5 linked regions of the Homo sapiens genome follow. The protein of the gene in region 1 purifies or fractionates together with the protein of each later gene. This does not show direct contact. Each region holds a gene or a part of one and is shown in the gene's direction. Other genes may lie near its edges.

Region 1 (6,156 bases):
ACCAAAAACAGGAGGAGGGAGGGAGGATGTTCCCTTGGAATACAAACTAGAGAAAAGCTTAGGGGAGCAAGTCTTTTTATTTGGGGACAGTGAAGAGTTTCCTAAAAATTCCCTGGCCCCCAGGCCTTGGCTAAAAACCCAGAAGCATGAGACACATCCCTGAGAAGCTTCTTCCCTAGAAACTGGGCTCTCAGGCCGGGCACGGTGGCTCACGCCTATAATCCCAGCACTTTGGGAGGCCTAGGCGGGCAGATCACCTGAGGTCGGGAGTTCGAGACCAGCCTGACCAACATGGAGAAACCCTGTCTCTACTAAAAATACAAAATTAGCCGAGCATGGTGGCACATGCTTGTAATCCCAGCTACTCAGGAGGGCTGAGGCAGGAGAATCGCTTGAACCCAGGAGGTGGAGGTTGCGGTGAGCCAAGATCGCGCCATTGCACTCTAGCCTGGGCAACAAGAGTGAAACTCTGTCTCAAAAGTAAAATAAATAAATAAATAAATAAATAAATAAAATTAAAAAAAAAAAAAGAAAACCTGGGCTTTCAGCCAAGTTTCAGTCACCACCACACAGGTGGCTCATGCCTGTAATCCCAGCACTTTGGGAGGCCAAGGTGGGCAGATCACCTGAGGTCAGGAGTTCGAGACCAGCCTGGCCAACATGGTGAAACCCCGTCTCTACCAAAAATACAAAAAATTAGCTGGGCGTTGTGGCAGGCGCCTGTAATCCCAGCTACTCAGGAGGCTGAGGCAGGAGAATTGCTTGACCCTGTCAGGTTCACACCATTGCACTCCAGCCTGGGCAACAAGAGCGAAACTCCGTCTCAAAAAAAAAAAAAAAGAAAGAAACTGGGCTTTCATGCAGCAGCCATGGGCCTTTGTCCCGGCAGAGGCTACCATGCAACTGACAGCCCAGGATTCGAGGGTGATGTAACCCAGGGTCGAGGTAGGTCCCTGGAGGCGGTTCTACCCTGAGGGAGCTGCATGATGGGATCTAGTATGCCTGGGCTGAGCCATTCTGCTCTTCCTCAGGGCCCATGAGGGCTCTGGCGCAGGTGGTATGAATTCCCCTGGTAGGCTGGGGCTTCTCAGTCCTGCTTTCCAAAGTGACCCCTGTGCTATGAGCAACTCTGTTACCACTCGGGACCAGGCAACTGTAAGCATAGAAGGTAGCCCTGTCCCAACCCACTTGAAAGTCTTGATATCCTCCCTTCCCCAGAGTAGCCCCTAGAATAGATGCTGAACTAGGTGACCTGGATTTAAATCTGACTACCGCAGTCAAGCCAGGTGACTCTGGGCAAGTCATTAAACACACTGAACTTCATTTCTTCATAGGTAAATTGGGGTTCAACTGTTTATTGAGTGCCCACTTCATGAGAGATGCTGAGTATACACTGGTGAATGTCAGCCCGGTGTTTAGTCCCTGCTTCATGAGACAACTGGAAGAAACATTAAACATTGTCCAAATAATAATTATGGCTGTGAAAGGTGCTGCTAGTCAGAAAACTTGCAGCCTGCATAGAGAGTGTAATATGGCAGGGCCCAAATGAGTTCTAGGTCAGGGGTGATGTCCCTTGAGGAAGAAGGGAATTATTTTATTTTTATTTGAAAATATTTTTCTTTTCTTTTTTTTTTTTTTTTGAGACAAAGTCTCACTCTGTCGTCCAGGCTGGAGTGCAGTGGTGCAATCTCGGCTCACTGCAACCTCCGCCTCCCAGGTTCATGTCATTCTCCTGCCTCAGCCTCCTGAGTAGCTGGGACTACAGGCGCGTGCCACCACACCCAGCTAATTTTTGTATTTTTAGTAGAGACGGGGTTTCACTGTGTTAGCCAAGATGGTCTTGATCTCCTGACCTCGTGATCCAACCCCCTGGGTCTCCCAAAGTGCTGGGATTACAGGCATGAGCCTCCGTGCCTGGCCTAAAAATATTTTTCTACAAAAAGAGAGATGGGGTCTTGATATGTTGCCGAGGCTGGTCTTAAACTCCTGAGCTCAAACGATCCTCTTGCCTCAGCCTCCCAAAGTGCTGGAATTACAGGCATGAGGCACCGTGCCCAGCCAAGGAAGGGAATTTTAAAATGAGACCCAAAAGATCAGAGTGACAGTAAGTGAAGGGGTGGAGGCAGAAGGGTGCCCAGGCAGAGGAAATAGTTTGTGTACCCTAGCACCTAGAAAAATGCCCGTGCTGGCTAGGTGCTCAATACATACTTGTTGACATGTTCCATTCCCATCTACATGCTTTTAACTCCCAAAAGTCTGTTTGGGAGTCAGGAGCATGTGGGTGGTAATGAATGGCTCCAGACCCATAGGTCCAAATGGCAGCTCATTGTCCCACTCAGATGATGAGGCAGAAGGCTCAGAGGGTATACTACCTTGCCATGAAAGAGTTTGAGTGTTAGCAAACTGAAAGAAAGCCAGGGTGGGGCCGGGTGCTTTGTCATGCCTGTAATCCCAGCACTTTGGGAGGCCAAGGCAGGTGGATCACCTGAGGTCAGGAGTTCAAGACCTGCCTGGCCAACATGGTGAAACCCTGTCTCTACTAGAAATACAAAAATTAGCCAGGTGTGGTGCACATGTCTGTAATCCCAGTTACTCGGGAGGCTGAGGCAGGAGAATCGCTTGAACCCAGGAGGCAGAGGTTGCAGTGAGCCAAGATGGCACCACTGCACTCTAGCCTGGGCAACAGAGTGAGGCTGTCTCAAAAACAAAACAAAACAAACAAACAAACAAAAAACAAAGCCAGGGTGGAGGGAGGGAAATGATCCAGGAAGGTATGGTGCATGGTGAAGCTGGAGAGAGATATAGACAGGGTAAGGACGGCAATGGAAAGCCATGAAAAGATTCTGGACTTCCCTGAAGGGTAGCAGGAAGGCATTGATAGATTTTAAGCAGGAAAAGATGTGATTTTTTTGTAAAGATCACACAGCTGTGGTGTGGAGAATAGGTTGTTGGGGGGAAGATGGAGTGGGGAGAAGGGTTAGGAAGTTCTTGCAGGCAAGAGATGGAGAAAAGTGGGAGTAGAGATGGAGAGAAATAGATGTGGCAAGAGATAATGATTAGGGCTTGGCGACTGATTGGATGAGGGAGAGCAAGGGGTAGGATGGTGTCAAGGATATTTCCCAGATTTGTGGCAGGAACAGCCGGGTGCCTGGACATGCATTTACTGAGAATGGCCTTGGAGGAGTAAAGCACTTGAGAGAACATTAGTTTGGGACACGCTAACTGTGAGATGCCTGTAAAACATACACGTGGCAGTGTTAGAGAGGTAGATGTCCAAGCCTGTAGCTCAGAGGAGACTGGACTAGAGGACTGGACATTTGGGAATTGATGACATGGCATTGGTACATAAAGATGTGGGCCCAGATGAGATCTTCCAGAGAGAGAGAGAGCGCTGCAGTGAGAAGGAGAGGCAGCCTTGCATGTGAGGAACTCCCACATTTAGAGGGGAGCAGAGAAGGGGACAGAGAAAGGGCCTTCGAAGAAATGGCCAGAGAGGTAGAAGGAAACCAGGAAAGAATGGCATCTCAGAAACCAAAGTTGGAGCTGCTGAAAGGGCAAATAGAAGGTGAAATCATGAGAAATTCCCCCCTTTTTTTTTGTAGATCAAAACCAGACAAAATTGGCAAGCTCATATGGTTCAACCTAATTAGACTAAAACCTGGAAAAAGTAACTGATGACCTCAGTCTAAGAAATTTTGAGGCCGGGCACGGTGACTCATGGCTGTAATCCCAGCACTTTGGGAGGCTGAGGTGGGCGAACTGCTTTGAGCCCAGGAGTTCGAGACCAGCCTGGGTCTCGAACCCTGGACTCAAAACATGGCAAAACTGCATCTCTACTAAAACAAACAAACAAACAACAACAACAAAAAACTAGTAGGTGGTGTGTGCCTGTAGTCCAGCTACTCCGGAGGCTAAGGCAGGAGGATGGCTTGAGCTGGGGAGATGGAGGTTGCAGTGAGCCGAGATCATACCACTGCACTCCAGCCTGGGTGACAGAGCCAGACCCTGCCTAAAAAAAAGAAAAAGAAGAAATTTTGGTGGAGATTTTGGAGCAGAAGCCAGACTCAGGATAGGGAGAAGTGGATACAATGCAGATAAGAAGGAAAGAAGGAAATAGAATTGACAGACTTGGTGATTGACTGGTAGGGGTGAAAGAGGGCAAAATCAAGGGTAATCCCCAGGTTTCAGCTTTGGCAGCTGAGTGAGTGGTGTCAGCTGATGAAGCAGATGTGTGTTTGGAGGGGGATGTGCGCAGATCAGTAGTCTATGATGAGTGTGAGGTGCGTGGAACTGGTGGTGCCTCGGAGCCTTCTGAGTGGGATGATGAGCTGGCATTTGGACCTATGGGTCTGGAGCCATTCATTACCACCCATATGCTCCTGACTCCCAAACAGACTTTTGGGAGTCAAAAGCATGTAGATGGGAATGGAGCATGTCAACAGGTATGTATTCAGCACCTAGCCAGTATGGGCATTTTTCTAGGTGCTAGGGTTACACTCATGAATAAGACAGAGTGTCCCCCTCATCCCCACCTTGCTTTGGAGCTTCCATTTTATGGGGGCAGACAGACAATAGGCAAATAAGCACAAAATAATGTTAATGGTAGTAAGTGCTATGTAGGGTTAAGGGGCATGGAGAAGACTTACTTGCCATAGGTTAGTCAGGGAAGGGCTCTCTGAGGAGGTAACATTTGAGCGGAGCCCTGAGGAGTGACTGGACGAGCCATGGATGTCCCGCAGGACACAGACAGGAGGAAGCTCAGCAAGTCTGAGGGACAGAAGGTGGGGTGGGAGCAAGCTAGGGAGGAGGGACTGGGGAGGCTGGAGAGCTGGGAGAGGGCCAGATCTGTGGGCTCCTCAGGCCTTGGGGAGGAGGATGGAAAGTGCTGTGCAGATAGTCCTAAGCTGCAGGAAGGGCAGGGACTGGGCGAGAAGAGAGAATCCATGAAAGGCTTCCCCTTCTATCTGGGCCCCAGAGCCAGAAAAGCCCCTTTGTGCAGAGGGTGGGTGGCCTGTTCTGGGTGGGGGAAGGGCTGTGCTTGGTCCTGAGGCTGAGCCTTGAGGGGCTGGACAATGGGGCCCCTTGTGATTGGACTTGGGGGCCAAGGGGCTCCCTCAGTGATGGGATTCCTGAGCCAGGAGGCATGTGACCCCAAGACCTTGTCAGAAGGTCTGGGACTGCTGCTGGGGAATGGGGTAGGGGGGTGGGGAGAGGTAGGGGGGTGGGGAGAGGTGGGGGGGCGCCTCCTCTAGAGGCTGTCTCCAGACACAGTGCCCTGTCCTGTCTCAGGCTGAAGGAGGTGAGATGGGCGGAGGAGGGGGCATGGTTCTACTTGGGGGAACAGAGAGGGCAGCATCAACAGATGGTTCCATAGCAGGCCAGGAGGGAGGAGCCACTGCCCCCAGGCCCAGTGGGTGGGGGCAGGCAGAAGAAGGCCTGGCCATCCTGTCTGTGTCCCTTCAGAAGAGAGAGCATGGAGCTGGAGAGGATCGTCAGTGCAGCCCTCCTTGCCTTTGTCCAGACACACCTCCCGGAGGCCGACCTCAGGTAGAGACGGGTCCCCCGGAAGGCTCATGTCAGTGCTGGAGCTGGAGCTGCCGGGCAGTACTATGGGTACTGGCTGATGGAAAGACAGCAGGAGGGCTGACTAGGATTTGCTGAGAGGCCTTACCTCTCATCCTGTCCCTGTCACCTTTGTTGGGCAGATGGGAAACCATAGCTCTGAGGGAGGGGGTTATACTCTCTGGCCTTAAAGATAAAGGTCTAGCTCATAGACCCCATGAAGCTGAGGGCTGGAGTCTCAGGATAGGTGGGGGTGCTGGAGGCATCCAGTGTCCTACCCAGGGCTTGTCCTGTTCCCTTCCTGCAGTGGCTTGGATGAGGTCATCTTCTCCTATGTGCTTGGGGTCCTGGAGGACCTGGGCCCCTCGGGCCCATCAGAGGAGAACTTCGATATGGAGGCTTTCACTGAGATGATGGAGGCCTATGTGCCTGGCTTCGCCCACATCCCCAGGTAGGTTCTGGCTAGGGCCAGGAGGAGGAAGGGGCTGGCTGATTATGGGGTGGGCAGAGTCATCCTCTCACTGCCCTCATCTTTTCAGGGGCACAATAGGGGACATGATGCAGAAGCTCTCAGGGCAGCTGAGCGATGCCAGG
Region 2 (6,243 bases), on another chromosome or scaffold:
CTTGCCTCCACAATTTTGTTTGACCCCACACACAATTTTAAAAACAAAGTAATTTTAGTGATTTTAGAGAGAGCCCTTTTTAGCTCACCCTTGTCTATACCACTCCCATGTGTCCAGCATGCTTGTCTGACTCCCAGGAATATTTAAGTTTGCATTTCTGATTTAAATAATAAATTATAAACAGTACAGTCAGGTGTTTGTTTCTTGCGAGTGCCTTTGCTGTTCTGATACTCCCCAGAGCATCCAGTCATCCACATTCCTGAATTTCCACTATCTACTAAGAACCCTCCCGGGTGGTAGTTCAGTGCCCTCTCCATCTTGTAGGCTTAAGAGGGATTAAGGTAAATATTTAATTAATGAAAATATATAAGAATACATTTAACAATTATGTGACTAAAGTTGTGATAGATATACTAAAATCTACTTGGTATAGTTCATAAGTGGACAAATGCTAAAGGCAGGTGTGTATACAAGGGTGATTGGAAGGAAATAGATGATATGGAAATGAAAACATTCATTGTGTGGATCAACCTAATTGGCTTTACAGTTGTGTATCATAGACTGTACAAGAAAAAGAACCAGAAGCAACAATGAGCTGAAACCTATTGTATTTGAACCTATGTATTTGAAATCTGGACTCGATATTCTTGGGATGGTGATTTCCAGGTCCATGCGAGACAGTTGTTGAGCAGTTAATTGCATTCAAAGGGCATTGCCCATTTCAACTATATATACTTTCATAAGCAGAAAAATGTATAATGAAAATGTGGGTTTGTTGTTTAAATTTTTATTAAAATTTCTAATAGAGTTGCTTTTTAGTATATCTTTATCCTTGTATAAGTTATTCGTTAAGTGATTTAAGAACACTGAGAAATGAAAAGGGTCAGTGGACCCAGATGGCTCCATTTATCCTTATTTACTGAGAGTTAATTAGAAGAGAAAGCAGGGTTTTGCCTTTTTTTTTTGCTAAAGACACTTAGCTCTTGTTTTTCAAAAGATACTTACTTTGAGAGAACTGGGCAGTTCATGCCTGCTTGTTTTCATTATAAATAGTTACTTAGGAATAGGGTGGTGGTGGTAGCTTTTCAGAGCTCACAGATGAGAATTGAGTTTGTCTGTGAGAAGGCTAAGGGCAGGCTCTGGAGACAGACAGACTCAAATCCTGGCTCCTCCACTTGGGAGCCATTGCGTCCTGAGCAAGTTGCACTCTACCTTTAAGCCTCAGCTTATTTATCCAAATGTGGGAATACTGGTAACTTCTACCTCAGTGCGTTATATGTATTAAATGGAATAATCTATATAAAATGCTCAACATGTGCATGATACTTGTTAAACAATAAATGTGAGCAATTAAAAAAAAGTAAAGCCTGGTTGAAATAATCAGATGTCTGCATAATTTCTAACGCCTCATCCAATGAAACTTAAGTAATTTAAATAGTCGTGTTTTCTTTTTAAATCTCTTACAGAAATATTGTATCCACAGTGAATCTTGGTTGTAAACTTGACCTAAAGACCATTGCACTTCGTGCCCGAAACGCCGAATATAATCCCAAGGTTAGATCTATTTTAATGTATTTCTTTTTTTTTTCTTTTTTGTCTCCTCTGCCGTGTCTCTATATTTTAATGTATTTCACGCTATAAAACAAATGTCTGTAGATCAGGCCAGGCACAGTGGCTAATGCCTGTAATCCCAGCACTTTGGGAGGCTGAGGAAGGAGAATTTCTTGAACCTAGGAGTTCACCACCAGCCCAGGCAACATGGCAAGACCCTGTCTCTTAAAAAAAAAAAAAAAATTGGCCGGGCTTGGTGGCTCACACGTGTAATCCCAGCACTTTGGGAGGCCGAGGTGGGCGGATCATCTGAGGTCAGGAGTTCAAGACCATCCTGGCCAACATAGTGAAACCCCGTCTCTACTAAAAATACAAAAATTTGCCGGGAGTGGTGGCATGCGCCTGTAATCCCGGCTACTTGGGAGGCTGAGGCAGGAGAATCACTTGATCCTGGGAGGCAGAGGTTGCAGTGAGCGGAGATTGCGCCATTGCATTCCAGCCTGGCAACAGAGCGAGACTCCGCCTCAAAAAAAAAATCTGTATATCAAAGAGTTTGTGTTATGCTTATTCCTTGACACCAATAAAATGAAGATCTAAAGTAAAATGTGCATTGTTTTGTATCTTTTATTGAGTGTCTGTGATATAAGAATCCCTGGGAGTACAGCAGTCTATAAAATAAGCTAAGTTATATATGTATTGTATTGGGATCATGTGAAGAATTTTGTATATGTATAGGGATGATGTTAGCCAGCTATAGTAGGCAAAGTAATTTGGATAAACATTAGCTGGGTTGAGAGAAATGTTAAGTAATGGACTTAGGGTGCATTTTAAAATCCCTGAAACATAATGCCTGAGATCTGAAAGACAGCTAAGGGTCTGAAAATCACCTTTTAACCACTCATAATGAGTCTGTATGACATGTAGCATTCTAAGAATTAATCTTTCATCTATTATAATCACATTTAGTTGAATACATAATTTTATTACTTTACGTTCTTAAGTGATATTTAACCAATAAAAATAGTAGAGGAAATTCTGGAAATTCAAAATAGCTAGGCTTTTCCTGGGACGTATATAAACTACTATATACTGCTAGCTTTTTTAGATGTTGATAAAATCACAGGGAAGACATAGAGCAGGTTTTAAACTAAAATTGTTAAAAGCCAGGCATGGTGACTCAGACCTGTAATTCCAGCACTTTGGGAGGCCAAGGTGGGAGGATCACTTGAGGCCAACAGTTCAAGACGAGCCTGGGCAACATAGCAAGGCCTTGTTTCATCAGAAAATTTAAAAAATTATCTGGGGTTGGTGGCACACACCTATAATCCCAGCTACTTGGGAGGCCAAGACAGAAGGATCTCTTGAGCTCAGGAATTCGAGGCTGCAGTGAGCCATGATTGCACCACTGCACTCCAGTCTGGGCAACAAAGTGAGACTCTTGTCTCTAAAAAAAAAAATTAATAAAATAAAAAAATAAAATTGTTAAAGCAATCTAGTTTGTCAAAGAGTCGTCTTAATTAGAAACATGTAGGTTTTTATTGTATAATTAAATGTATTAAAATATTTAAGTTGTTTCAAAGTAATTATTTGCTTTTTATCATGTACCTAATAACTGAGGCCATTAATTCAACCCACAGTTGAAATATTTTCCCCTTGAGTTACCACCTTAGCAAGAAAATTTTCTGAAAGAATTAACATGTTTCAAGCATAAAAAGCAGAAAATAAAAGTTAAAACTGTGTTTTTTTCCTAATTTGCATTTATGTGTTTAATACATTAATATTGTTTCTAAAGACCAATTGAAAGCATGATTTTACTTCATTACGTATTGATAGGCTTGTAATCTGATTTATTAATTCCATTAAGGTAGAAAAGGTTTATTGGTTTATTTGCCTCAAAATTCATATTAATAAAACAAAATGTATCAGAGAAGCTATAGTCATGATAAGCAGCAAATATAAAGTAGAAACAGAAGCACTTGTATTTATTGAGAACATAACCAAATTTTGCAAACATTTCTCTTGATGGAATGCTCATGTGAAAGAACATACAGATTTGGTATAACTTAGTCACAATTGATTATTTTCTGCTCCTTATGCAAAGGAATATTTGTTACATGTGGTGTATGCAAATCCTTTACAGATATACAGAAATACAGAACAAATATTTTGATAACTAGATGTACTATGTCCTTCCTACCAGTTGTGATTTTTTTGTCAATGGGTGGTTCGCCTAACAACATTGAGCAGTTTGGCATGACCTCACTAATGATTCTCTCTGACCATTGTAGCGGTTTGCTGCGGTAATCATGAGGATAAGAGAGCCACGAACCACGGCACTGATTTTCAGTTCTGGGAAAATGGTGTGCACAGGAGCCAAGAGGTAGCCGTAAGAAATTCATTCTTCTGGTCTATGGGTTATGAATGAAAAGGTGATATCTCATTGTTTTTAGGTTATTAGGTTAGCACTTTAACATGTTATTATTGCTTTCTTATAAAAACCATTTTAATATGATTCTATTAATTATTTTTATTTATTTATTTATTATTTGATTCTATTAATGTTAGATAGCAGTGATTTCATTTTCTTAAAAATTAGATATGGGCAGGCGTGGTGTCTCACCAAGGCGGGCAAATCACTTGAGGCCAGGAGTTCGAGACCAGCCTGACCAACATGGTGAAACTCCATCTCTACTAAAAATACAAAAATTAGCCAGGCGTGGTAGTGGATGTCTGTAGTCCCAGCTACTTGGGAGGCTGAAGCACGAGAATCGCTTAAATCCGGGAGGTGGAGGTTGCAGTGAGCTGAGATCATGCTACTGTACTCCAGCATGGGAGACAGAACAAGACACTTTCTCCAGAAAAAAGAAAAAAATTAGGTAAGATGTAATACAACATCAGAACTATTAATAAAATTCCCTTTATGTGAAAAATGTTGTAAATAACACAAATACATCTTGAAATGGAAGAAAAAATTGATCAAGAATTAAAACACTTCTAAGCTAATGGTGTAAGGGCTTTGCAGACCTTATTGGGCCTGGCAGCGTGACAGCATCACATGTGTTGGCTGCAGAAACCTGCCTTCTCACTGGAACTAGCTTTCATTAATAGTGTTTGAGTTGTGCAGATCTTAAGGAATGCACCCTTGTTATAAAATGTCATTGCCTATATTCTCCATCTGAAGTGATCCTGTCTGAAGGTTAGTACTCTGCGGCCCTGACTGTTCTAAACAGAGCTTATATACTTGGTAGAAGTCAAAAACTAGGGGGAAAATTAGTGACATTAGCTTCATAAATGAACTGAACAAATAAACTAAAACTTTTTAAATGAAAGAGTATTAAATGTACTTGGAGGTATCAACACATAGAAGGGGGCTGTGGATATTTTTGCTTATTCTGAAGTTTGAAATTGTCTTTCAGTGATGGGAATGCCATTGGTGTGGACATTCTGGCTCCTGATCTCCGAGGTTTTTCAGAATGCAGGACAAGGATGTGTTCTTGCCTTTCACTTCCCCTTGGCCACAACATGCAGTAGTAACCTCTTTAATTAAGAGCGTTTTTGTTTGCTTGTTTTCCCCTGCATGGAACATCAGAAACTTTTGGTTTATCAAGGCAAGCTTTTCATGCAGCATTTAGCCTTTTTGTCCCAGAGCATCTGAAAACTGAATATTGTATATGTAGTTGGATGACTATTTCATCAAGACAAGAAACCACCAATACATTTACCTGAAATTTAAAAGCGTAGCATATATATATATGCTTGATTTTTGTTCTTCCTGATCCCCTGCACCTGATAGTCTCTTTATGGTAATATTTTCACATTCTTTTTTGTTGTTGTTGTTGTTTTTGAGATGGAGTCTCGCTCTGCGCCCAGGCTGGAGTGCAGTGGCATGATCTCGGCTCACTGCAAGCTCCGCCTCCTGGGTTCACGCCATTCTCTTGCCTCAGCCTCCCGAGTAGCAGAGACTACAGGTGCCCACCACCATGCCTGGCTAATTTTTGTATTTTTAGTAGAGATGGGGTTTCACTGTGTTAGCCAGGATGGTCTCAATCTCCTGACCTCATGATCCGCCTGCCTCAGCCTCCCAAAGTGTTGGGATTACAGGTGTGAGCCACCGTGCCCGACCTGCCTGCCTGCCTTTTTCTCTTTTATTTTTTCTTTTTTTCTCTTCTTTCTTTCTTTCCTTTTCTTTTTTTTTTTTTTTTTTTTTTTTTTTGGTGGAGTCACCTAGGCTGGAGTGCAGTGGCACAATCTTGGCTCACTGCAACCTCCACCTCCCAGGTTCAAGTGATTCTCCTGCCTCAGCCTCCCAAGTAGCTGGGATTGCAGGTGCCTGGCACCATGCCCAGCTAATTTTTGTATTTTTAGTAGAGATAGGGTTTCACCATGTTGACCAAGCTGGTCTCGAACTCTTGACCTCAGGTGAGCTATCCGCCTTGGCCTCCCAAAGTGCTTGGGATTAGAGGCGTGAGCCACCATGCCTGGCCCACATTCTGCTTTTCTTATGTAAGCTCTGAACTGCTAAGTCGTAGTTTATTCAACAAATGACATAGGAATGTCTATTCATGATGAGTCTTGGTATAAAAGAGGATAGAATTAGTGAATACATTGTTCAATAATAAATCTCATCAACATTTTCTGATCAAAATGAAGTTTGTTAGTTTTCCTCTCAGTAGAAATGCATGGGCTAAAATA
Region 3 (6,243 bases), on another chromosome or scaffold:
ATCTTAGATACAGACTTTGATAAAACTTATTTATGTTTTCCAAAAGTCTGCATCCTACTTCTGCTTCCTACTTTGTCCATTTGTTTATTGGCTTAAATTACACAAGTGTGGGAAGCTAGATATCCTTCAACTGGTAGTACTTTCTTTGTCATATCACTTATTTCTAGTTTTTACTCACTTGAAAATTTGGCAGTGAGGCAAACTAATATCTGGTTCCCCAAGGGTACCTTCTTCATAGTTCTCTGAGGTTATACTGACATTCCGCACATAAACAGATGATGTATACATTTTACCTGATAGTTTCAGTTGAGGATCTCGGTTAGATTTCTTCTGGTCCTTTATATATAAAACCTTAGAATTTTGGAAGAATTGCTGTTCTGAATTTTTTTCCATTTGATATTGAAGCATTTGAACTTCAGACCAGGTAAGTTGTATTTTTTACCTGAATGCTTTAATTGGTCTCACTAGCCACTAACCCCTTCCATCCTCCTATTTAAAAGCTAAGGAGGAGGCGACCAGGTGCTGTGGCTCACGCCTGTAATCCCAACACTTTGGGAGGCTGAAGCGGGTGGATCACTTGAGTCCAGGAGTTCAAAAACAGCCTGGCCAACCTGGTGAAACCCTATCTCTACTAAAATATAAAAATTAGCTGGCATGGTGGTGTGCACCTGTAATCCCAGCTACTCGGGAGGCTGAGGCATGAGAATCACTTGAATCCAGAAGGTGGAGGTTGCAGTGAGCCGAGATCATGCCACTGCACTCCAGCCTGGGCAACAGGGCCAGACTCTCAGGAAAAAAAAAAAAAAAAAAAGCTAGAGAGGCAGCAATGCTGTTCTGATAATCCCCAGATTTTTCCAAGTATATATGTTCCCAGGGATATTGTCCAGATTCCATATGTAAGCGTTTATACACCTGATTTAGAAAGAAACATAAATTTTCCTTTTCATTAAGGAAGCAGATCCTCCACAAACAGATCTTGAGGGGAGAGGGGAGGAAAAAGACCTACCACCTCTAGTTTGTTTGAAAAAAAAAAAAAAGAAGCAGAGGTTTCAGCAGTGGCATCCAGGGCTGGGGTCGCAGCCGTGGATGGGGCCGGGACCGAGGCCACGGAGCTCGTGGAGGCAAGGCCAAGGATAAGGAGTAGATTCCCATCACCAAGCTGGGGCTCCTGGTCAAGGACATGAAGATCAAGTCCCTGGAGGAGATCTATCTCTTCTCCCTGCCCATCAGGGAATCTGAGATCATTGACTTTTTCCTGGGGGCCTCTCTCAAGCACAAGGTTTTGAAGATTATGCCGGTGCAGAAGCAGACCCGTGCCAGCCAGGGCACCAGGTTCGAGGCGTTTGTTGCCATCGAGGACTACAATGGCCACGTCGGTCTGGGTGTTAAATGCTCCAAGGAGGTGGCCACTGCCATCTGCAGGGCCATCAACATCCTGGCCAAACTCTCGATTGTCCCCGTGCGCAGAGGCTACTGGGGGAACAAGATTGGCAAGCCCTACGCCGTCCCTTGCAAGGTGACAGGCCACTGCGGCTCTGTGCTGGTGCGCCTCGTCGCACCCCCAGGAGCACGGGCATCGTCTTGGCACGTGTGCCCAAGAAGCTGCTCATGATGACTGGTATCGATGACTGCTACACCTCAGCCAGGGGCTGCACTGCCACCCTGGGCAACTTCACCAAGGCCACCTTTGATGCCATCTCTAAGACCTACAACTACCTGACCCCGGACCTCTGGAAGGAGACTGTATTCACCAAGTCTCCCTATCGGGAATTCACTGACCACCTCGTCAAGACCCACACTAGAGTCTCCGTACAGAGGACCCGGGCTCCAGCTGTGGCTACAACATAGGGTTTTTACACAAGAAAAATAAAGTGAATTAAGCCTGGAAAAAAAACAACAACAAATAAAAACCTGGTCATTTATGCTATATTTAAAGCATTTAAATCACTTTCAGAATTACCACTGGGAATGTTGTATTAAAAATTAAGGCCAAGCGTGGTGGATCACGCCTGTAATTCCAGCATTTTGGGAGGCTGTGGTGGGCAGATCACTTGAGCTCATGAGTTCGAGACCTGCCTGGGCAATATGGCAAAACCCCATCTCGACGAAAATACAAAAAGGCCAGGTGCGGTGGCTCACACCTGTAATCCCAGCATTTTGGAAGGCCAAGACAGGTAAATCACCAGAGCTCATGAGTTCAAGACCCGCCTGGGCATCAATGGTGAAGCCTGGTCTCTACAAAATATGCAAAAATTAGCCGGATATGGTGGTGCGCACCTATAGTCTCAGCTGTTCAGGAGGCTGAGGTAGGAGGATGGCTTTAGCGTAGGAAGTAGGGGTTGCAGTGAGCCAAGATCATGCCACTGCACTTCAGCCTGTATGATAGAGCCAGACCTTGTCCAAAAAAAAAAAAAAAAATTAAGAATAATACTGAAGGATTTGGATGTTTTTCACATCTCCCTCAATAACTCTAGTATCTGACAGGAAGTTTAAAGTAATAGTAATATTCAAGAAGGCAACGATAGTTTGTTTTGTAAGCATTTCTTTTGATTCATGTTCTGTGCGCTTTCACTTGATTTGGAGATTAGCAGATGGGAGAAATTGGTAACTTAGAGAAGCATCACAAAGAGTGCTCTCTGAACTTCTGTAACTTTTACCTAATTTTTTATACTAAAAGTTTATGATACAGGTTTTGGGGTTTGTAGCTTATTTAATCTACTTGTTTCTCTCCACAGCAAGACAGATCGGCTTGCCAAAGGATCAGAATGTTACCAAAAGAGCCTTAGTTTAAATCCTTTCCTCTGGTCTCCCTTTGAATCATTATGTGAAATAGGTAGGTGGGTGGGGTTGAGAGGTGGGTGGGTTCCCATCTCCTCTTCTTTTTTTCCTGCTACTTAATTTTTGGAGAGCAATACAGATCATCTACCCCCAAGAAAAATATTTTTCAAAGTTAAAATTGAGAATAAAAAATAAGTTAGAATCTTCGGTATGTTTCAAGAATCATATAACTGAAAATTACACAAAGATTAAATCCAGTAGATTCTTCTGTTGAACCAATCTATTTTCAAGTATCTGGTGTCCTCTAGAATGGGTTATATTGTGTGTTTAACACTAGCAAAATTGCTTTCTGAATAAGAAAATTAATAAAATTTCTAATGCAATTAATAAATGCCTGAAACTTACAAGACCTGAACAGTACAGGGAGAGAATTTCTCAGTATATTTGGCCTAGGATACATAAAGGACCATTTTTCAGCATTGTTGCATCTATGTATATATAGAAGGGCTTCAACCTTTACTGTAAAATATGATGGGTTTTAACTCTTCAACCTCATCTCCTACTTTGAGAAAAATGAGATCTAGTTATTTTCAGCTTTAAAACAAACACAGAAATCTGCATTTTTCTGCGATTTGTTATGTTTAAAATTAGTGTTCTTGTAGTTTATTTTCATTTACAGCTTTATCTTACTGGTAAACTTTTATGATATATTGATAGATGGGTTTTTTGGGGGTAAATTTGATTAGCAGAAGTGGACAGGAGATTTTTAAAGTTTGGATAAGGCCTATTTCCTGTTTCCACTGATTTATGCATACTTGAAAAACATGTATTCCTCACTTCCTCAGAGACAAACTTTTTTTTTTTTTGTCTTCACAGGTGAAAAGCCAGATCCTGACCAAACATTTAAATTCACATCTTTACAGAACTTTAGCAACTGTCTGCCCAACTCTTGCACAACACAAGTACCTAATCATAGTTTATCTCACAGACAGCCTGAGACAGTTCTTACGGAAACACCCCAGGACACAATTGTAAGTGTCTTATATTCTAGTGTTCAAAATATTATGAAAACTACAAAGAATGATCTGAACTAAATAATATATTGTGAATGACTTGGTAGAAATTTTCTGTTTCAGGAATTAAACAGATTGAATTTAGAATCTTCCAATTCAAAGTACTCCTTGAATACAGATTCCTCAGTGTCTTATATTGATTCAGCTGTAATTTCACCTGATACTGTCCCACTGGGAACAGGAACTTCCATATTATCTAAACAGGTTCAAAATAAACCAAAAACTGGTCGAAGTTTATTAGGAGGACCAGCAGCTCTTAGTCCATTAACCCCAAGGTAAGTCAAACAAGATACTTTCAAATGTGCTATAATACCAAATGATCTTATGATAACTCATATTGTTAGTAATGCAGATTATTACAACAGCAACTTCTAAATCACTGTGGAAACAGGGGCATTCTGTTTTCAGAAAATGAAGTAAAAACTGGCAAATAGTGATGTTGCCAGGTGCGGTGGCTCATGCCTGTAATCCCAGCACCTTGGGAGGCCAAGGCAGGCAGATCACCTGAGGTCAGGAGTTCAAGAACAGCCTGGCCAACATGGTGAAACCCTGTCTCTACTAAAAATACAAAAATTAGCTGGGCATGGTGGCGGGCGCCTGTAATCCCAGCTACTCAGGAGGCTGAGACAGGAGAATTGCTTGAACCCGGGAGGCGGAGGTTGTAGTGAGCCGAGATGGAGCCACTACACTCCATCCTGGGCGACAGACCAAGACTCCAACTCAAAAAAAATTGATATTGAATATTGGACTGGCCAGGCGCAGTGGCTCACGCCTGTAATCCCAGCACTTTGGGAGACCAAGGTGGGCAGATCACGAGGTCAGGAGATCGAGACCATCCTGGCCAACATGGCGAAACCCCGTCTCTACTAAAAATACAAAAAACTAGCCGGGTGTGGTGGCACGCGCCTGTAGATCCAGCTACTCGGGAGGCTGAGGCAAGAGAATCACTTGAACCCGGGAGACAGAGGTTGCAGTGAGCCGAGATGGTGTCACTGCACTCCAGCCTGGGAGACAGGGCAAGACTCCATCTCAAAAAAAAAATTGGAGGAAAATTTAAAACTCTGAAATATTCCTTAATTAGGTAGTAAACACATTAAAAAATACTGTCTTTATGGCTGTGCATTAATGGATAGCGGTGAGCCTCATGAAATGTTATAATCAGGGCACCACTGGTTACTGTTAAAGTGCCTTTTTCCAAAACATGGAGGAAATTTGACACCTACCTTTTTTTGTTTGAGACAGGATCTCACTCTGTCACCCAGGTTAGAGTGCAGTGGCACAATCATAGCTCACTGCAGCCTCAAATTCTTGGGCTCAAGCGATCCTCCCACCTCAGACTCCTGAGTAGCTGGGACTGCAGGCACATGCCACCACACCTGGCTAATTTTTTAAGTGTTTTTGTAGAGATGGGGTCTTGCTGTGTTGCCCAAGCTGATCTGGAACTCCTGGCCTCTAGTGATCCTCCTGCTGTGGCCTCCCAAAGTGCTAGGATTACCGTGAGCCACTGAACCTAGCTGTCACACCTATTAATATAAAATATTTTATCAAAATTATTAGAAGTATATGTATGTATAAATACAGGAACTCAGCCCAGAGGATACATATCCAAAAGTATCAAAATGAAAAATTATGTGCTAGAATGGGTTGGGCATGGGGGCTCATGCCTGTAATCCCAGCACTTTGGGAGGCTGAGGTGGGCAGATCACTTGAGACCAGGAGCTCAAGACCAGTCTGGCCAACATGGTGAAACCCTATCTCTACTAAAATTACAAAAATTAGCCCGGCATGGTGACACATACGTGTAATCCCAGGTACTTTGGGGGTTGAGGCACAAGAATCATTTGAACCCAGCAGGTGGAGGTTGCAGTGAGCTGAGATCATGCCACTGCACTCCAGCCTGGGCAACAGAGCGAGACTCTGTCTCAAAAAAATATATACATATATGCTAGAAGAAATTCTATGAATCAGGTCCTGAGGCCGGGGAACTACTAAAATAGCATGACCATGAGATTACAACTCTGGAGAGTTATAGTTATCTAATGGTCTCTAGAGACATTTTCTCTGTAGTTGTGTCTAAATCCCATAAATTCCAAGAATTTGAAGTAATCTCATCATTTGGATCTTAGATTTATAAAGCTACTCTTCTTTATTTCTAATAAATCTCCTGAGATCAGTAATTGTTGCTCAGTTTAGTTCCTTGTTTGATAGCTTTTTAAAATTTTAGTTATGGTGGGTGGAATAGTCTACATTCACAGCTTATTTTTAATCTGCCCCTCAGATCCTCACTGTCCCTAAGACTGATTTGCCATTCTCTTCCTTTTAGACCTTCTAATTTAAGTATACTGCTGCTTTATATATGCCTTGATGACTTTTTGACACCTTGATTTCAACC
Region 4 (6,243 bases), on another chromosome or scaffold:
GATGTCTTTAGCCAATAGTAAAGAACAGCAGTTTTCTTTGACTGCGCAAAATGAGGTTGGATATTGTTTGAGCCAACTTGAATTTCAGGAATGTAGTTTTGAAGCCTTAACTTTAGAATGTCAACAATGAGTCAATTTTAGAAGAGATCATAGAACGACTAATAAAGCTTGTATTGCCAATCAAATCAGAATCTTAGTTAAATGCTAATAATATGGTAGAGTTCTTGCTTACGTGTGGGTGGATAAGGGCTGATACAGCATTTAGCGAAAATAGCATCAGATGTAGGTAAACTTGCTTTAACACATTTTTAATTAGGAAATTTAAGAGGGCTTTCTCCTGGCTTTAAGAATATTCCTTCATGAAGGGCTTAGGGCCGGTAAATAGATTGCTTTTTAAGTTGTGACTTTGTACTTCTATTAATATAAAAATATTTACCATTTATTACCCAACATGACTTCAGTGTTGACTGTGTGGATTAGTTGGCCCATGAAACTTTGGTACATTTATTTTTTGCAAATTGTCCTGTCCTATGACAGAATGCAGGCAGTTTCTTTACTTGTCTATAGAATCTCTTATTTCCTGGCTACTCATCACTTTCTTGTTTTTGTCTAGCTAAGCCCACGGTCTTTCTGGTTGCAGTCACTTGGTTCATGCTGGAAATACATTTGTATACACGTTTGTAGAATAAATAATACTTTATAGGAATTCAAAGATAAGGGGAGACAGCTCTTTTCATGTGCAACAGATACTGTTTATGATGTCCCTTGGCACTATTCTTGGAGCTTGAGATACACTAATGATCAAAACAGAACAGTCCCTGCCATTGGGAAGCTTACTCCAATCAGGGGAGATAGATGCTAAAACATAATAAATTAGGATTTATTTACTTATTTAAAACATAATAAAATATTTATATGTTAGAAGCTGATAGTCGGTATGGAAAAATAAAGAGCAGGGAAAGAGGACAGGTTTGGTTTCAGTTTTAAATAGGATAGTCATAGTAGGTCTTTGGAGAAAATGACATTTTAGCAAAGACTTGGAAAGAGTTAGCCCTGTCATCTGGTGGCAGAGTCTGTTGTATGTGAGGAACAGCAAGGAGGCCTGTGTGGCTAGACTGGAGTGAGGGAAGAGGAGAGTACAGTAGTAGGTAGAGAGGTAAGGGAAGGCAGATAGTAAGGATTTTGTAAGGACATGGCTCTTACTCTTAAGTGAATCAGAAAGTTATTGGAAGGTTTCAGTGAGACAAATGGTATGAACTGATTTAAATTTTGAAAGGATTACTTTGCTTTCTTTGTAGAGAGCATAATATGAGGAGGAAGCAGAGGTTGCTGAAACGAGACTATTTAGGGGGATATTATAATAATTCACATGGGAGATAATGATGACTCGGCCTATGGTGATGGTATTAAAGTTGGTGAGAAGTAGTTGGATTTTGGATTTGTTTTGAAGGAAGAATGTTAACAGCATTTCCTGACTCTGAGATTTGTGGTAGAAAAGAAAAAGGAATCAAGAATGACTCTTGAGATTTTTTGATGAGGATTCTGAAAGAAGGATGGTGATACCATCAGTTCAGATGAGGAAAAGCTGCATGTGGAGCTGGTTGGACATGCCAAGTCTGGTATGTCCGTTAGACATTCAAGTCATCAATCTTAAGATGCTACATTTAGCATTTATGTAGTGTATTTAGACCAGAGATATAATTAGTTCTTAATCCAACAGTCTTTACCCTACCTGCTGTTTTACCTTTATTGTGCTTTGTTTTGCTTTAATAAGTAAGCAAAGTTTGAATCCAGAAGAAGAACATGAGAGTAGTTTCCAAATAAGATGAAGGTTGTTTGATTGAGTGATTTTTTTTTTTTAAGTCTCAAAAAGCAGAGCTAGGATCAATAAATGGAAGTTGGAGAAGCAGATTTCCGTAAGGGTAAACTCTGAAAGATTTTACAAGAGAGCTGTTCCAAAAAGGAATAACTTAATTTGAAATTCTTTGCTCACTGTTTCTAATCGTATTTAAGCAGACACTGCACAACCATTTGCCAGGAATATGTCATGAAGAATGTTTGCACTGGGAGGTTAGGCCATGGAATTTTAGGAATGAGATCTCAGAAAATATCTGTACCTGGCCGGGTGCAGTGGCTCACGCCTGTAATCCCAGCACTTTGGGAGGCCGAGGTGGGGGATCACCTGAGGTCAAGAGTTCAAGACCAGCCTGGCCAGCCTGGTGAAACCCATCTCTACAAAAATACAAAAATTAGCTGGGCGTGATGGTGAGTGCCTGTAATCCCAGCTACTCAGGAGGCTGAGGCAGGAGAATCACTTGAACCTGGGAGGGGGAGGTTGCAGTGAGCCAAGATCGTGCCATTGCACTCCAGCCTGGATAACAGAGTGAGACTCTGTCTCAAAGAAAAAAAAGAAAAAGAAAATATCTATACCTGTTGAGCATTTCTGCATTATTATATGAAACAGACTGATTTAGTAAAAGCGTACTGGACCAAGACTTGAAAATCATGATTGTCACTTAGTAGCAGTATACACTTGGTCAAACCATTGAACCCTATCCAATCTGTCATTTCTTCTTCTGAAAATGAAAGCCTGAACTAGTTGATTTTTTTTTTTTTTTAGGTACCTTTAGATCATAGAATAGGGAGAACCAGGGGGCCTTCTTTGCAGAAGATGTGGAACTTGAACATTAAATAATTAGTGTGACTTACTGGGAAAAGGAAGAAAGGTCACTTCAGTTCATTAAGTTTTACAACTCCTCTCCCCCACCAAATCCATGGAATTACAAACAACTACGGACTATAAGTGAAGGCAAAGATGGGAGTGCCCAGAGCCTGCCCTTCAGCTCTTTTTGTTTAACTGTGGATGTACATAGTTTTTGAAATCTGGTGTAAGTGACTGGATGATTAGCATCCTTTAGATGTATTTTTAAAATACTGCTATGTATAAGGTTCCATGGTAGTTAGGTCTTGAGAACTCTATAAGGAGTTTTATTTTGGTAGAAGAAATGAGTCCATAATTGTATTACTTACAAATAATGTAAGAAATGTCAATGAAAATACCATTGGGAATTTAACAGTGGAAAAGAATAGTTTTAGCTGGTAAGATTTGGGAAAGCTTTGTGGAGGATAGTCTTTTTGAGGTAGACCTTGAAAATATATATGCAAACCTGGTAGAGAGATAAGACATTTTGTAAAGAAATATTTTTTAACTACTTTAATGAACACAAGTACTAAAAGCTATAAAATAGTACTAATTACAGATAAATTTGTTTTTAGACCCACCTAGTGAGTTTTGTGTGTGGTTTTTTTGTTGTTGTTGTTCTTTTTGGTGAAATTAAACTTTATTAAGAAACCAATTTTTAGGCCAGGTGCTGTGACTCACGCTTGTAATCCCAACACTTTGGGAGGCTGAGATAGAAGGATCACGTGAGGCCAGGAGCTCGAGCCCAGCCTGCACAACATAGGAGACCCTTCTTCTACAAAAACAAACCAATTTGCAAATACAATACTGTAAATACTGTTTTGTGGGGGGGTGTGTGTGTACGTGTGTGTGTGTATGGGTTTTTTGTTACTTGTTTTCTCTGTTTTCTGATTGTATCTCTCAATTTTTAAAATGTTGTTTTTGTTTAGATACACAGAAGTAAAAACAAATGGAAATTTCATCTCAAGGATGGCATTATGAATCTTAATGGAAGAGATTATATATTTTCCAAAGCCATTGGAGATGCAGAATGGTGAAGAGTTGCTTTTTTTCTTTTATAAATAAAAGAAACTTAAAAAAAATGTAAAGCGGACAGTTTGAAACTTGGGGCATATGCCAACCAAAACTTCGTTTCTGCATGTCAGAAAAGTGCAGTAGAAGCAAAGCTACTGGAACAAAGATAGACCTTGACAACATAGACACTACTTACTGGCAAGCCATGGAACTGTAGCACCTAGGGTTTTTGGGTGGGAGGGTTGGGGTTTTGTGTAGGAAAACCATAATTGTTGATTTTAAATACAGGTACCTGCCACCGGTAATTAGCATGTAAAGCTTTGTCTATATTCCTTCCTCCAACTTGGGTTCAATCAGAAGATACTTGTTGGAATGAACTGAAGAAACTTCCCTTTTGATAGATTGAACTGAAACTGCTTATTGTATGTGGTTATATTTGGTAAAAGTTGCGTGTGAGCTTTTTACAAAAGGGTAAGAATTGTGTTGAATTTTAATTCACTTGTATAAGAAAACAATTTAAAACTCTCATAATAGGTCTTAAATATTTTTACTTGCTATTCTCCCTCAGTGATATATACCTCTTCCTTTCCAGCTTTATGAAACATCTATTTAAGATTTAAAGTTATCAGTGATCATAGTTTGGAGATAAAATTTGACCCAGGAATGAATATTTATTTTAATTAGGTTTTCATACTTATTAAATGTAATTAAAGACTTGGGTCTTGTCTGAGTTCAGTGGAATTGAAACCACAACTTTAATTTCCTTACAGAAAAACTTAATTTGTTTCTTTTAGTGCCACACCTTAAAAAGAAACCCCAAACTAGCTCCTCAGGAATATAGTTTTATTTTGCAAGCATACCATCTAGCTGAAATTGTATACACATGAATATATGTAGACTTTTCCTGTTGGGCTGAAGTGTGTGCTTATAAATGTGTTTAGTTTTTAAGCTAAACATTCAGTTAACAGTCTGTGCATTGATTAGCATAGGGCAGGTGGTGAGGACCTGGATTTTTATTAAACAGTTTAGTAATTATAAAAGTTTCTTGTGTTTACTAGTAAAGAATTTTAAAAATCTATTCTAATTCAACAAGTTTTTAAAATCAACTTTGTAATTTGAGGGGAAAATTTGGGGGGAAGAGGTGGGTGGGCCACTAAGTTACCTCTCTTTCATTTGGTGGCCCTTCCAGGCCATTGAAAATAAAGACGTTGGCTCCAGTTTGCACATTGGGAAGAAAGCATAGAAATTTGACTTGTATATTAAAAATAATAGAAATGTAATATGTATATTAAGAATGCATAGGTCTGTATTCTGTAAGGGGCTCTGAAGAACAATATGGCACTGCTGTGTTCAGTGTGAATTCACTGCCTGGGAGAACTGCAGGAATGCTTGTCTTCACCATTGTGTTCTTACAACGAATTCAACTTTCCATGGTTTATCTTGACAAAATTTACATGTGTTTAGGTTACTTGTATATTGATATATTTTTTTAATCTTCAGTTTTTGTCTTCCTTTTGCCTTTGTGTTTTCAGAAGTAACACATGAACACTTTTTAAAGTACATTACAGAGAAGAAAACTGTGAGCTATTATATAGTGTTTCTTTTTTAACACAAATCTTTTAACTTTAAAAAAAGGCAAAAATTTTTTTTTTCTACTTCCCACCCAGCTTACCACCTTGATCTCTTTAACTTATGTTCTAAACTTTGGTGTTAATGGTGGTGTCTAGCATGCTAGTAGTTAGATTTTATTTAGATGCCATAACTGGTAATACAGCTTTTATTTTGACTATATTAATTTAGTTTTTTGAGGGGAAGTTTGTTTATTCTGTGACTCTCAAAGCACACAGAGGTTTTAAAATATATATTATTAAGACTGAGAGAAGAGGAAATGGGAGGGAGTAACATCACAGAAGTGCTGTTGTTCAACTGTTCTTCAATATAGTTGCTAGTAGGTTTGTATTTACTCAGTAAGGAAGTCAGTGACCTGAACTACCTATAAAAATTCAGCAGTGCTGCAGTGTTGCTTAAGTGAAACCCTTTGGCTATCTAGTAGTTTTTATGCTACTGAAACTTGGATTACTGTATGATATTCAGCTTGTCTTGGGCCCTCTATGTAGACAAACATTCATATTCATAGTAGTGTTGTATACTGGCCTGTTTTTATAACTTTATTTTTCAAATATTAACAACCACTGCTTTCAGAGTGGTTATTTTGTTATTTTTGAAGCAGGAAATAACCATTTGTATTTGCACCTGCGTATTGCATATGAATTATGGTATACTTGGCAAATGCTTTTCTTTTACCTGTGAAAATTCTGAAAGCTGGTCCAAGCTACATTGCATACCAAATTGTGCTCTTATATATTATTTGCATCGTGTCCTTTTTAATCAAATAGCATGTTTTAGTTTTATTATAGTAGCTTTTGCTGTAAGAATGTCACTTGCTTATCTTTTATTGTACTTGAATTCTTAATCATGCTTTTAACATTGTATTTAACAAATCATTTCGTATTAGGTTCCATTAAAAT
Region 5 (6,243 bases), on another chromosome or scaffold:
TAATTTGGTTTTTTGAATAAGTAATTCATTCACATGATCTATAATTCAAAACATAATAACAGCAAAATGCCCTACATTCTCTTGCCCTATTACCTAAGTGTTAGCAATTTTTTATTTGTCCTTTAAGAGGTGTTTTATGCAAACACGAGCAAATATGTATGTACAGTCTCCCCCTTTTTGTACAAATGGTAGCATACTAGGTATACGCTCTCCTATATCATGCTTTACCCCCACCACTTAATATGGCTTAGCAATTTTGTATCAGCACATAAAGAGCTTCTTCATTTTTTAACATACAATTGGAAGCATTTTATTATGTAAGTAGACTGTATTAACCAGTTAGTGAGCTGCTTTTATTCTTAGGTCTTATATTACCTTTTAAACTAAGGGAAACTGCCATCTTGCCTTTATTTCTTTAAATGAAAAACTTTCTATTTGAATGAAAAATAAATAGTTTGTGACAGGAAATTGTTATTTAAAGTCCCTCATTTCCTGTTTAACTCCAGTTTTTAAAAGTTTTAGTAAAATGATCAAAATGTACATGAGGAGGCAAGCAAGCCAGGTTAAGAGTTAACTCACAAGGTGAATTTAACTCTTTTGTTGAGGTTCTTACAGTTCTGAACAGACTACTTCTTTCAATTATTATTTTGGCCCAAAAGGTTTTTATAGCTTTCTTTCTTAATGAGAAAGAACATTTCATATAGTCCGGTGTTTTTTTGGGTTTTTTTTAACAGACAGCTCATGGGATATTATTACCCAGTAAGGCTGATTACTATACTAGATTTCTCCCTGCATTCATTTATTTTTTACATACTTGTTAACTTACCTTGACGATTTTCTAGTATTTCTTAATGTAATTATGTGAGTTTTATATTTTGTACCTAAATTTAAAAATAGTGAGATTCACCTATATGATTGCTGAGATGATAAACTTTACTGCATAGATGATTTTTTTACCCCCGTGGGGAAACCTTTGGTCAACCAGTTGGACCAAGTAATACGTATTTCAGCCAAAGCACAAAATGCGTTTCACTACCTTTTTTTTTTCCTCTAGCTTTTCGAAACAGCATTGAGCTACAATACTTTTTTATTTATTTATTTATTTATTTATTTTTATTTATTTATTTTTTTGAGGCAAGGTTTGGCTCTATCACCCAGGCTGGAGTGCAGTGGCACACACTTGGCTCACTGCAACCTCTGTTTCCTGGCTCAAGCCATCCTCCCATTTCAGCTTCCTGAGTGAGTGGGACAACAGGCGCGCACCACCAGGCCCGGCTAATTTTTTGTAGAGACAGAGTTTCGCCATGTTGCCCAGGCTGGTCTCAAACTCATGAGCTCAAGCCATCCACCTGCCTCAGCCTCCCAAAGAGTTGGGATTACAAGCGTGAGCCACCATGCCCGAATGCTGTAGTACATTTTAAATATACATGCTGTTTGTATTTATCTTTAAAATGTACACACTATGACTTTTTTGAGTTGATTAAACTCAGAAAGTGATTAATAATATAGCAGCAAGGGCACAAATCTCTTTCCAGAAAACATCATTAAGTAAAGCTGTCATGGGCCAGTCGCGGTGGCTGACGCCTGTGTGATCCCAGCACTTTGGGAGGCTGAGGTAGGTGGATCACCTGAGGTCAGGAGTTCGAGACCAGCCTGGCCAACATGGTGAAACCCCGTCTCTACTAAAAATACAAAAATTAGCTGGGCATGGGGGCAGGCGCCTGCAATCCCAGCTACTCAGGAGGCTGAGGCAGGATAATCACTTGGACCTGGAAGGCAGAGGTTGCAGTGAGCTGAGATTGCACCATTGCACGCCAGGCTGGGCGACAAGAGCGAAACTCTGTCTTAAGAAAAAAACAAAAGCTGTCATGGTATATTTCGTTTTTTGTATTCCCAAGTTGGTGTTTATGCGTTGATCATATATACAAAGTTTTTAATGTAAGAATATTGTTTTGAGGTTTTACTAATATTTGATTTAAAATATTACTATGTGCTATTTGGCCAGGCGTGGTGGCTCACGTCTGTAATCCCGGCACTTTGGGAGGTCGAGGCGGGCGGATCACTTGAGGCCAGGAGTTTGAGACCAGCCTGGCCAAGATGGTGAAACCCCATCTCTACTAAAAATAGAAGAATTATCTGGGTATAGTTGTATACGCCTGTAGTCCCAGCTGCTTGGGAGGCTGAGGCAGGAGAATTGCTTGAGCCCTGGAAGTGGAGGTTGCAGTGAGCCAGTATCACCCCACTGAACTCCACTCTGGGTGACAGAGCAAGATGCCATCTCATAAATAAAATATTACTGTGTGCTATTTGTACCTGCTAAATGATTAAAATGTTTACAAAGTGCTTTGTTGTTGTTGTTGTTGTTGAGACGGAGTCTTTCTCTGTTGCCAGGCTGGAGTGCAGTGGTGCGATCTCAGCTCACTGCAACCTCCGCCTCCTGGGTTAAAGCGATTCCCCTGCCTCAGCCTCCCAAGTAGCTGGGATTACAGGCGCCTGCCACCATGCCCAGCTAAAGAGACAGGGTTTCACCATGTTGGCCAGGATGGTCTCGATCTCCTTGACCTCGTGATCCACCCACCTCTGCCTCCCAAAGTGGTGGGATTACAGGCGTGAGCCACTGCGCCTGGCCTACAAAGTGCTTGTCTTTACATATTTGGGGATGGGGGTGGGGTAGATCATTGAAATCTGTAAAGGCAGAACGTTTTTTATCTGGAACATATCTGTAGACTAACAGAGTTAAATGATTTCCCACAGTGTCATGGAATCATCAGTGGATTGCCTCTTGGGGTGGAGGCAAAGATCATTAAAGCAGCAAACTGATAATGTGAACGTGGTTGTTTTTTCTCTGCCAATTAAATATATGCTAGTTTAGTCATTATAGAAGAGCCAGATGCTGGTCAGCTTGTTGAAGTTGTAAGTAGAAGGTGTGGTTTTATCACATCTGTAAATGTAGGTTTTTGAGACAAAACTTAAATAAGAATAGACGTTAGTTTTTATTCACATTCAGAATGTCTGACTCCCCTTAATATATACACACTCTTGTCTTATCTACTGGGTTTTTTTGTTGTTGTTTTTTGTTTTGCCTTTTCTCTCTCTCTTTTTAAGCTCTGCCAGACAAGGCCCTATGAAGATAGGTTTTACAGGTTGAGAATCTTTTATCTGAAATTCTTGGGACCAGAAGTATTTCCAGTTTTGGGTTTTTTCAGATTTTAGAATATTTGCATATACATACATAATGAGCTATCTTGGGGATGGGACCCAAGTCTAAACATGAAATTTGTTTCATATACACATTATACACATAGCCTGAAGGTAATTTTATACAAAATTTTTAATAATTTTGTGCATGAAACAGTTTTGACTGTGAACTGTTACATGAGGTCAGGTGTGGGAATTTTTCATGGCATCATGTCAGTGCTCAAAAAGTTTGAGATTTTGGATGTTTTATTAGGGATGCTTACCCTGTATTATATTTTGCCCAGATGTTTCCTCATTTGTCTTCTAGGCTACCAGAAAGATGTTAGCTTAGAAAAACGTATTCTGGCGTTTATTCCAACAGATGAGAAGGCAGTTTCTCCAGTGATGAATAATTACCTATAATTTAATACGTGCATTATACATCTCCAGTGATGAAAAATCACTGTGTATTAAAAAATTCTTGAAGCTAGGTACATAATCTCAACTCCTAAAAAAGAAAATAAACAGTAGTACTCCTTGATGAACTTACAGATGCTAAGTTGCCTTTTCTTAGAGTTGAAATAAGGTGATAAAGGAGTTTACCGTGAGACTAGCTGTGTGAACAAAGATGAAAAACACCCTTTCAGTTTTCTTCCTCTTGGATGATTCTAGGATCTCTAAAAAATAATCTTAAAAGGGGCGAGGTTTTGAGAGGATGAGGTCTAAGGAATTGATGGTGAGTTTTTTCTGAAAGAAGAGAAGTGACATTTGATTAGATAAGAAAGGGTTAAAAGGGAAGTTATTAATAAAATAGTTTAGGAGTAGAGTGGATCTGAAAGTTGACTTATACCAATGATGATAGAATGTGTCTTTTCCCAAAGGTTAGTGCATCTTCTCTGAAATGAAGACGTTTCTTTCATCAATTTTAAGTGAATTTCTAAGGATCTGGTTATCTACTTGTGAGTTTTTGGTTGTAACTGTATGACAGTACAGATGTAACTAAAAATGTTTGTAATTTACCCAAGGTTAAATAACCATTATTTTTGAGGGCTGTTATCCCTGTTGGTATAAGTAAGTAGTTGGCAGTAGGGGACACAGAAATACCTTGTTTTTCACCACTGAAGTGAAAATTACAGATTATTCTGAATTATTTGTACTCTTTTTTTTTTTTTTTGAGAGGAATCTCGCTCTGTCTCCCAGCCTGGAATGCAGTGGTGTGATCTCGGCTCACTGCAACCTCCGCCTCCTGGGTTCCAGCGATTCTGCTGCCCCAGCCTCCCAAGTAGCTGGGATTACAAGCATGTGCCACCATACCTGGCTAATTTTTTTTTTTTTTTTTTGTATTTTTAGTAGAGACAGGATTTCACCATGTTGGCCAAGCTGGTCTCGAACTCCTGACCTTATGTGATCTGCCTGCCTCAGCCTCCGATTACAGGCATGAACCACCGCCCCCAGCCCTATTTGTACTCTTAAAGGGGAGTCATTTTCTTATAATAAGTATCAGTAGTAGCTCTATTGTTTGCTGTGATCAATGGTGACACCTTGACTTTATGTATTGCCATTTATCAATCATTTATTCAGTGAAGATTTATTGACCATTGACTTTATTATGGTTGGTGAAATAATCGCAAGAAAATTTATTCAGTTAGGTATTTATAAAAATACCTAGGTATTAAATGAAGATTGTTCTAGTTGATATAAGCAATAAAGCCTGACTATATGGCTCCTACCCTCAAGAATCTTACGGTATAGTAGGGATGATGAAATAGTGTAAGAATGATTTATATGTGCCAGAGTACATGACAGAGTTTTTACTGTCTTGAAGAGCTACAGAGTTCAGAAGAGAAGGGGCTTAGTGAGGAAAAGTTTTGTGGGAGAAGTAGAATTCAAGTTGAATACTAAAGAACTTCAGTAAGTACAGATAAAATGGAGTGTATTCTAGGCAGTGGAATGGACAAAAAAATGAAAACATGGACATATAATGAACTTGACATACTCATAAATTGGTGAAGAAAGTATTAGATTATAGATCTACATTTTGAGGAATGCTGAGTATGAGGCAGGGAGCTTTGAGTTTCATGTAAGAGAAGGTAAGATATAAACAGGAATACAATGATAAATTGGGCTGAAATGTAGATTTCCTGACTCCCAATTCTTCTCCTTAGTGTAGACAGAGATATACAGTCATGCACTGTATAAGAACGTTTTGGTGAATGACAGATTGCATATACAACAGTGGTCCTGTGCTAGTGTAAGCAAACCTATTAAGAACTTCAGATAGGTCCTTCAGGAGGTATTCCAGAAGAAGGCATTGTTACCATAGGAGATGACAGCTCCATGCATGTGATTGCCCCTTGAAGACATTCCAGTGGGACACGTTGTGGAGGTGGAAGGCTGTGATGTTGACAATCTTGACCCTGTGTAGGCCTAGGCTAACGTGTGAATGTCTTTTTAACAAAAAATTTTAAAAAGTGGCCGGGAATGGTGGCTCACGCCTGTAATCCTAGCACTTGGGGAGGCTGAGTCAGGCGGGTTGCTTGAGCCCAGGAGTTTCAAGCAGCCTGGGCAAAATGGCGAAATCCTGTCTCTACAGAGAATACAAAAATTAATTAACTGGGCTTGGTGGTGCATGCCTGTAATCCCTGCTACTCACGAGGCCAAGGCAGGAGAACCCAAGAGGCAGAGATTGCAGTGAGCTGATACTGTGCCACTGCACTCCAGCCTGGGTGACATAGTGAGACCCTGTGTCAAAAAAATAAAGTTTAACAAAAAAGTTTAAAAAGTAAAAAAAAAAAAAAAAAAAAAAAAAAAAGGAAAAAACCTTAGATTCTTTTATTGCTTTACTTTATTACTAAATTTGCTTTCACTTAAAAACCCTTTAGAGAAAAAATATTTTTATACAGCTGTACAATTTATTTGTGTTTTAAGCTATGTGTTATTACAAAAGAGTTGACAAGTTAAAAAAACTAAAAAGCATATGAAGTTACAGTAAGCTACGGTTAATGTATTACTGATGAAAGAAAATTTTGTTTATATAAATTTAGTGTAGCCTGGATGGGCACAGTG

Evidence for each region.
Region 2: the proteins of CUEDC2 (region 1) and TBP purify together in Homo sapiens (affinity purification with mass spectrometry; 3 studies listed by BioGRID and IntAct, with this or other methods). This does not show direct contact.
Region 3: the proteins of CUEDC2 (region 1) and CDC27 purify together in Homo sapiens (affinity purification with western blotting, with the first as the bait; 2 studies listed by BioGRID). This does not show direct contact.
Region 4: the proteins of CUEDC2 (region 1) and GTF2A1 purify together in Homo sapiens (affinity purification with mass spectrometry, with the first as the bait; one large-scale study listed by BioGRID). This does not show direct contact.
Region 5: the proteins of CUEDC2 (region 1) and CREB1 purify together in Homo sapiens (affinity purification with western blotting; one study listed by BioGRID). This does not show direct contact.

Annotation. Positions count from the first base shown.
Region 1 is NC_000010.11:102,424,506-102,430,661, reverse strand, and holds part of CUEDC2 (CUE domain-containing protein 2), read left to right. Parts: intron 1-5,463; 5' UTR 5,464-5,473; coding exon 5,474-5,547; intron 5,548-5,869; coding exon 5,870-6,013; intron 6,014-6,101; coding exon 6,102-6,156.
Region 2 is NC_000006.12:170,563,079-170,569,321, forward strand, and holds part of TBP (TATA-box-binding protein), read left to right. Parts: intron 1-1,466; coding exon 1,467-1,554; intron 1,555-3,839; coding exon 3,840-3,931; intron 3,932-6,243. UniProt on the Homo sapiens protein: The TFIID basal transcription factor complex plays a major role in the initiation of RNA polymerase II (Pol II)-dependent transcription.
Region 3 is NC_000017.11:47,154,796-47,161,038, reverse strand, and holds part of CDC27 (cell division cycle protein 27 homolog), read left to right. Parts: intron 1-1,040; exon of another isoform or gene 1,041-1,885; intron 1,886-2,735; coding exon 2,736-2,833; intron 2,834-3,654; coding exon 3,655-3,809; intron 3,810-3,914; coding exon 3,915-4,126; intron 4,127-6,174; exon of another isoform or gene 6,175-6,243. UniProt on the Homo sapiens protein: Component of the anaphase promoting complex/cyclosome (APC/C), a cell cycle-regulated E3 ubiquitin ligase that controls progression through mitosis and the G1 phase of the cell cycle.
Region 4 is NC_000014.9:81,177,718-81,183,960, reverse strand, and holds part of GTF2A1 (transcription initiation factor IIA subunit 1), read left to right. Parts: intron 1-3,630; coding exon 3,631-3,738; 3' UTR 3,739-6,243. UniProt on the Homo sapiens protein: TFIIA is a component of the transcription machinery of RNA polymerase II and plays an important role in transcriptional activation. TFIIA in a complex with TBP mediates transcriptional activity.
Region 5 is NC_000002.12:207,534,709-207,540,951, forward strand, and holds part of CREB1 (cyclic AMP-responsive element-binding protein 1), read left to right. Parts: intron 1-6,243.